Linked DNA regions of Homo sapiens: all the other regions are linked to region 2. Evidence: fine-mapped expression QTL. A gene starts in region 2. Each other region holds a variant in brackets. All regions are shown on one strand. Distances are from middle to middle.

Evidence for each region. PIP is the estimated chance that this variant, and not a neighbour inherited with it, causes the effect.
Region 1: its variant is fine-mapped to the expression of COL28A1 in iPS cells (HipSci, PIP 0.92).
Region 3: its variant is fine-mapped to the expression of COL28A1 in cerebellum (GTEx, PIP above 0.99).

Annotation. Positions count from the first base shown.
Region 1 is chr7:7,508,248-7,511,018 of GRCh38, forward strand. All of the region lies in intron 9 of COL28A1 (collagen type XXVIII alpha 1 chain), which reads right to left. Among named protein-coding and RNA genes, the nearest start is that of COL28A1, 26 kb to the right of the region's middle. The variant G/T (reference allele first, on the strand shown) is at 1,398.
Region 2 is chr7:7,534,730-7,537,500 of GRCh38, forward strand. COL28A1 (collagen type XXVIII alpha 1 chain) reads right to left here and starts at 1,144. Exons shown (of 35, transcript NM_001037763.3): 1 at 1,021-1,144.
Region 3 is chr7:7,959,403-7,962,173 of GRCh38, forward strand. The region is part of intron 1 of GLCCI1-DT (GLCCI1 divergent transcript); the gene reads right to left. Among named protein-coding and RNA genes, the nearest start is that of GLCCI1-DT, 8.0 kb to the right of the region's middle. RefSeq lists an enhancer at 801-930. The variant T/C (reference allele first, on the strand shown) is at 1,324.

The DNA of each region.
Region 1 (2,771 bases), 26 kb before region 2:
TTTCCTTTTTCCATGTCATTAAAAACTCATAGTAAACAGATAATAGTCAAGAATAGGGAACTACCATAATTTATTTACTCATTTCCCTAGCTTTGACCTAATATTATAATGAACATCTTTATGTATAAATCTCTGCCCAACTTCTGATTCACTCCTAAGAATAGTCTACTAGAAGAGGATGATGGAAGCAGAGACCATAAGCACATTTAAGGTTCACCGGCTGTCCTTTGTCTCTCATGCCATATATAGAAATAAAGAGAGAGAAACTTCCTCCATAAAGTTTGTTTGTTAATCATTTCCACTACCCGAGTATGAGAGAGTGTATCTTCATCTTATGGGCTCCCCATCAACAATTAGTATTATACATTACTTCACTGTTTGCTAATTTGATAGGTGATATAATACTTTTGTATGTTTGCTTTTGGTTGCTGGTGTTGTTGTTGTTGTTGTTTGAGACAGGGTCTTGCTCTGTTGCCCAGGCTGGAGTAGCTCACTGCAGCCTCTATCTCCCAGGTTCAAGCAATCCTCCCACCTCAGCCTCCCTAGTTGCCCACACTGGTGATATAATACCTTATTGTTTTATTGTTGGTTTTGTTTTGTTTTTGAGATGGAGTCTTACTCTGTCCCCCAGGCTGGAGTGCAATGGCACAATCTCGGTCCACTGCAACCTCTGCCTCCCAGGTTCAAGCAATTCTCCTGCTCCAGCCTCCCGAGTAGCTGAAATTACAGGTGTGCACCACCATGCCCAGCTAATTTTTGTATTTTTAGTAGAGATAGGGTTTCACCTTGTTAGCCAGGCTTGTCTCAAACTCCTGACCTCTGATGACCTGCCCACCTTGGCCTCCAAAAGTGTTGGGATTACAGGCATAAGCCACCACGCCCAGCCTATTTTGTTTTTTTTGAGACAGGGTTTCGCTCTGTTACCCAAACTGGAGTAGAGTGGCACAATGACAGCTCACTGCAGCCTCAACCCCCTGGACTCAAGCAATCTTCCCACCTCAGCTTCCCAAGTATCTGGAATTACAGGCACATGTCCAACTAATTTTTAAATTTTTTGTAGAGACGGGGCCTCACTATGTTGCCCAGGCTGGTCTCAAACTCCTGGACTCAAGTGATCCTCCCACTTCGGCCTAATTTTAATGTATTAATTTCACTTATCTGATTGCTACTGTATTCGGATATTTTTCTTATTTATTAGCCATTTTAATTTCCACTTCTCTATCTCTTCATGTTGTTCATATGTTTTTCTGAACAAACTTGTGTAAACTCTTCGTGTCAAGGACTCTATATCTCATCAGTTCTAAGGCACATTTTTTCACATTTTTATATCTCTGACATTGGGGTATATTTTACAGTCAATTGCACCTTACATTTATAATTGGCAGTGGGTTTTTTTT[G/T]TTGTTGTTATTCCTTTTTGGTATGGAAAATAATGGGACATTTAATAATCCCTGACATCTTAGTCAATGAAATATGATATCCTTTGTCAACCATTTTAATTTCATCTAGTTTTCCCAGGTATTCTTTGACTTTCATTTCTATTCTATTCTATGTGTGTCCCTTTTTCTGCATTGCCAATATCCAGGTCCATCTTCCATGTTCAGTTATACTCCAGGAAGAATCTATTCATTTTCACATTTCCCATTTTGACCAGAGATAATTACCAAGCCTACCTTTTGCAGATCCACCTGACTTTAACTCTACAGTACTTTAAAAGCATTCAGAAAGTCTCAATCTATTTAAAGTGTTTAGTTTCATGGGCCAAAGTCATTATCTCACCCTCTTCTCCTAACCTTCTGCCTCATTTTCTCTCCTTGACTCCCTTCCAGAATTATAACATAGAAACTGAAAAAGTTTGGTATCTTGGTGGCATGATGTTAATAGTTCTTAATATAATGAAAACTATTTATTTTTACTCTGTACTTTTTTGGACCCTTTAACATCATGTTTCAGATATACTCTCTGTATATATTTGGCCTTTTGAGGAACTCTTTAACATAATATTATTTCCAAATTTAAGTGCTTTCATTATTGATTGATTGATTGATTGATTGATTTTTGAGACGGAGTCACTCTGTCACCCAGGCTGGAGTGCAGTGGCACGATCTTGGCTCACTGCAACGTCTGCCTCCTGGGTTCAAGCAATTTTCCTGTCTCAGCCTCCTGAGTAGCTGGGACTACAGGTGCACGCCACCATGCCTGGCTAATTTTTGTATTTTTAGTAGAGATGGTGTTTCACCGTATTGGTCAGGCTGGTCTCAAACTCCTGACCTCAGGTGATCCACCCACCTTGGCCTCCCAAAGTGCTGGGATTACAGGTGTTAGCCACTGCGTTCAGCCTATATTTATTTTTTAAAATAAAGGTGAATATTTATCCAATTGTTTGTGTCTACATTTTCAAAATTCCAAATCTCTATGTCTAGTTGCACCACACTGTTTATAACTATTTCACTGACTGATTTCAGAGTTCTTCACACTATTTTGGAAAGTGCCTGTTTTCAGTGTTTGCATCTGGAAAGCACTTCTACCCTGACCTAACTGCAGCTTTAATTAACTTTGCAGGTTAAATAATTCTTTTTACCATAACATTCAGTGGGCGTGGCCTCCAAGGTTAGGGTGTCAGAAAATGAAGTCTTAATGGTCCATAAAAAAGGCATTTGGGGGTTCTATTATTGAGTTAGGCATCACTTTGTTTTCTACCACATGTTTTACAGATGTGAAAAATTGAGCCATTGATTCCAACTCTAGTAGTGAGATCACCATAATTCAGCCCA
Region 2 (2,771 bases):
ATATAATCATGAATTTGTACCTGATCCCTGTATATATGATATTCACAAACATAACTTTTCCATTGACAATAATCCCAGTATCTCATATTTTGTTCTTATTTGCTCTGACATTGTTAATCTAGCTCTCCCAAACCAAAGTCTTGTTATTTCTTTCTGTTTCCCTATTGTAGCCAGAGGACATTTTCATACCTCTCTAGATTTGTTTCTCTAGCTTGTTAGTTCTACTGCTTCCCTGAAATATCTTTCTCGTTTATTAATTTGGCATCTTGAGAGCCCACTCATTTCTAATCACTTTTTACCATGTTTTATTTTGCCTCTGTTTTTAATAATTCTCACCTTTCTCTCTTTCTGATGTCACGTACAAGCAAAATAGGTTTCAGAGGAAACAGTGCCATTAGTTAAGTGAAAGAAATGTGAACCTCTGTGTTTACTATAGGTTACATTTTATAAATGCAGAAACAATCATAATTATTAATCAAATACCGTAGTTTTACTTTTGGCCTAAAATTTATTTGGGGTAAATATCAGGATCAGTAAATAAATCCAAGATACTTTATTTTTTATAATTTTTCAAAAATAAAATGATCTTATATCAGAGTTCACCAACTTTAGTTACAATGTTTGCATCTCAGTTTCTACACAAATAGAAAATGATTGAATAAAGACTTTATTCAAATTGACAAATTAGCCAAGTTGTAAAGTATTCTATAACTAATTCTGAATTGTAAACCCTGTTCCAAATTAAGAAAAAGATGTCCTAAAATATATTAACATCGTTGTAAAACAATTTAGAAGACTGTAAATTAAAAATCCATTTCAAAATAATTTTAAGTTTTAAATTTCTACATTTTAACAATGTTAATATTTTTCTAATAATTGATTTGAAGTAATTGCAGAGAATACAAACTATTGACAAGCTTTCTCACCTAATAATTATGTAAGTAAGTCATTTAGTCTTCCACAGTTCCTTGATGGTCCTATCTGATTTCAAGTGACTAAAATAAATCTGTTATGTCTTACCTTATAAAGTTTGTCAAACAGGAATTAAAGACTAGTTGAGTAAATGCCAACAGCAAGGACTGTGGTTGGGGGTGAAGTTAGCTATTTGATATTGTTCTGTTCTGTGGGAAATAAAAGTGTCTTTGCTTTAGGATCTTTTGCAGTCTTTTGTTCATGTTTATTCGACTAAGTCAAAGCAAGAGTGGTCAGGCATTTGGCCAGGGTGCAAGATCTGGGTGGGATCAGTAAGCAATTTAAAGGAACAGTGTCCTTTCAGAATGAGACTGTGTTTTCCAGACTATTGTAAAAACAACTTGAGAGAACTTTCTACATTTTAGGCATTGGTTGACAGCCTGCCTTTTTTTCTCATGCTATGTCCTTCTCTTTTTATTGCTACATTTCTTTGCCTGGGGGATGTGCTCTAAGATACTGGTTCTGAACATCTCTGTGAAGGAGTATAAATGACACCAGACTCAGAATCAAAGCTGTTTTTTTAAGAGAGGTAACAGTTTGATTGTTATTAAAGCTGGATGATGAGTACATAGGTGTGCATTGTTCTAGTCTTTGTATTTCTGTGATTTTTGAAATTTTTTATAATAAAAGGTATATATAATATACAGGGAAAGAGTGGTCTGAGTATAGTCATAGTTCTGCCCCTAACTTTTATGGGGGCTTCAGTTCCCCACTTATGAAATGAGAGAGTAGATTTAATCATTTATTAAGATGTGTTCGAACTGTAACATGAGAGGTTTACAGCGGTTAATATTTTGGTCTCTCTCTAGGAAAGGATCACTGTGGTTTTTCCACTCCCTGTTTCCCTATTTTCTACCTTGTGGTTATGGTCCATATTAAGTCAATGTTTATCATGTAATATATACTGCCAAGAAGCCACCTGACCCCTAGACAGCTAACAGGCAGGCTTCTCCACGGACTTCCTCTGAAATAGAGAATAGCAAGATCATCCGAGAAAGCAATACAAATGTGCATGTTACGGTTATTTAAAATGAACTTTCTTAGCCATTTTAATGTGTATGAATTTCCTTATTACAGCAATAATAGCCTCCAATTCATGGACACTTACCAGGTGCTAGGCACTGTCCTGAGTGCTTCACACACATTACCTCATTTAATCCTTCACAAGCACAACCACCTATATACAGTAAGTCCTCACTTAATGTCCTCTGTAGGTTCTGGAAACTGTGACATAAAGTGAAACAATTGATAATGAAGACAATTTTCCCAAGAGCTAATTGATATAAATAAGAGTTAAGCTCTTATGGCATATTCCTAGTCACAAAAACATCACTAAACCTCTAAATACTCAAAACACCTCTAATAATAAACATTGAAATAAATCTAAGCTATATATACATTTATGAAAGATTGATAAAAACAAGATAACTGCTTACCTGCATATTCCAGTTCAGGGTCACGGTTGACCAGATCCTGTCCCAGCAGCTGAGGATACAAGGCAGGAACCAGCCCTGGACAGGATGCAGTACTGTCAAAGGGCACTCATACACCCACCCACTCTCTCAGACAGGCACCATGTAGACACACCAATGCATCTAATGGGCAAAGCTTTGGGATGTGGGAGGAAACTCCAGGACCTGGAGAAAACCCACACAGACATGGGGAAAACATGTCAACTCCACACAGTGAGCCTGGCCCAGGAATTGAATTTTTTTTCTCATCAATGTTATAACAAAATGACATTGAACAAAATATTATTCCAGGACCCCTTGTACTTAGTAGATGTTGTAAGAATTCGA
Region 3 (2,771 bases), 420 kb after region 2:
TCCCGGGTTCAAGTGATTCTCCTGACTCAGCCTCCCAAGTAGCTGGGATTACAGCATGGGCCACCACGCCCGGCTACTTTTGTATTTTTAGTAGAGATCGGGTTTCTCCATGTTGGTCAGGCTGGTCTCAAACTCCCGACCTCAGATGATCTGCCCGCCTTGCCCCCCCAAAGTGTTGGGATTACAGGCGTGAGCCACCGCACCTGGCCTGTCTTTTCTTTTAAACTAGACTAACATGTACTTTCTTTGGCTCTGCTCAACCCCAAGATCCCATTTTATATCATGCCTTATTTTAATTGTTACACTCTTAAAAGGAATATTCTGCATTGATGCATCTACCTTCGTACCCATCTTGCTAACTTAGTTGTAATCTGGCTTCGATTGGGCCATATTTTATGGACACTATTGGCTTGAAGATGATCAGTGATGAGATCCAGTGCTTTTTGCTTAGCTCTTAACCTGCTTTCCCATTCAGCAGCATGTGACATTGCTGATCACCTTGTCCTTTTAAAAGCTGCATCAATTAGTGGTCATTTGATATAACAGCAGAAACCTACTCAAATTATTGACATGACAAAAGGGATCTGAGTACAAGACTATAGGAAACTCTCCCACAGAAAGTATAGTAGGACTGTACAAGGACTGGAATAATGAATGATGAAGCCATCAGCAACAAGTAAAGTTATAACAAGTAATTATTGAACACGTGGTATATCCTAGGAACTACATAGGTGTTAAGTGATCAAGTAGTGAACAGAAGAGACAAACAAGGTCGCTGCCTCTAGAGACTTTACAATCTAGTAGGAAAGACTTGCCATTAGGAGGTAAACAAATGTGTATTGACAACATTTAATGAGCAAAATAGATGGAAAAAACTGACTTAATGATAGATTATTATAGGTTATTAGTGATGGGTGAGGACTCAGGAAGGACATTCTAAGACATGGCATTTCAAGGGAATTGAGGAGCAGGGAGGTAGAAGTGATTTAGGCTGAGGAGACACCTGTATGCAGGCCATGCAGGAGCGTTTCAGGGGAAGTGAAAGGAGGCATTGTGGCTGGAACTGAAAAGGGGAGGAGAAGAGTAGAGCAAAAGTAGTCAGGCCAGGTCAGGCCTTTTAAGCTATTTTAAGGAATTTGGATTTCATTGCAAAGTTATTGGAAGACACCAAACCTTTTTTTTTTTTTGAGATGAAGTCTCAATCTGTTGCCAGGCTGGAGGGCAGTGGCATGATCTCGGCTCACTGCAACCTCCACCTCCCTGGTTCAAGCGATTCTCCTGCCTCAGCCTCCCGAGTAGCTGGACTATAGGCACGTGCCACCA[T/C]GCCCAACTAATTTTTGTATTTTTAGTAGAGACGGGGTTTCACCATGTTGGCCAGGATGGTCTCGATCTCTTGACCTTGTGATCCACCTGCCTTGGCCTCCCAAAATGCTGGGATTACAGGCGTGAGCCACCGCGCCCACCCGACACTGAACATTTTTAAGCAGGAAATGTGGCTCAACATATTTCCAAGTTTACCCTGACTAATAAGTAGAAACTAAATTAAAGAAGGCAAGAGTAGAAGCTGGGAGGCAAGTTGAGTAGCTGCAGCAATAGATTAGGTAAGAGATGACAGTAGTTTGACTTAATGTAATAGCAGAAGAGATAGAAGTGGATGGATTAGACATCCATTTATTAAAAACAAATGAGAGGACTAGCTGCTGGGTTGGAGGGGGCGATGGTGGGGAGAAAAATGAGAAATCAAAAATATTGTCTAGGTTAATTGTTTGGAATAACTGGATAGATGGTGAAACCATTTGCTGAAATGGGGAAAAAATGGGGACAATTTTCTCAGAGGTTAAGAGAAAGCAGGAATATGGAAATTAAGATTTTAGGCCCATTTTAGACACATTCACTTCAAGTATTCATGGGTACTTGACGTATCAAGCAGGCAACTGAATATACAAATATGAATCTTGGAGGAAATGTCTGGGCTGGAGAGTTTCATTTAGGAGTTGCCAGCATTTTGCAGTATTTAAAGCCATGGGAATGTCTAAGATTACCAAGAAGGTGAGTTTATACAGAAGCAAGCAGAGAATAGAGGCCAATTTTTAGAGGGAACTAGAGGAGGAAGAACCTGAAGAGCACTGAGCAGTAGTGGTTAGAGAAGTAGGAAACAGAACAGGTGAGTACAGTGTCCCAGACTCCTATAGAAGAGATTTTTTTAAAGAACTGAGCCTGACCAGCAATGTGGAAAACTGCTAAAAGCTGGAAAAGGAAGAGGTCCCAGAAATATCCACTGGGTCTGGCAATATGGAGGCAGTTGATATTGATTAGCAGTTTTCAGTGGCATGAAGCCAGATTGGAATAGACTAAACAGGAAAATAGTAGATTAATAGGATTAAATAGGATATCAGAAGTAACATGTAGACATCTCTGTCAAGAACTGTTGCTGTGACAAGATCAAAGAATTTGGACCATAGATGGAAAGGGATGGCAGAAGAATCTTTGTTTTGCCTTTTAAAGTAAATGTTGGCATAACAGCATGTTCAAACATTACTGGGAAAAATCAATAATTTGATGATGAAGAAGATGGAGATAATAACTGCAGAAATGAAGTCCCTGAGAGACAAGAGGGTCAGAATTTAAATCAGAAGTGGAGGAGATGGCTTTCGATAGGAAAGGAGAACATGTATTACCTGTACAGAAAGGAAAAAGAAATTGATCCAAATGTTGAAAAAATCATAGATTTGATGGTGGGACTGTAGTGGAGATGTATCAGCAGGAATGGG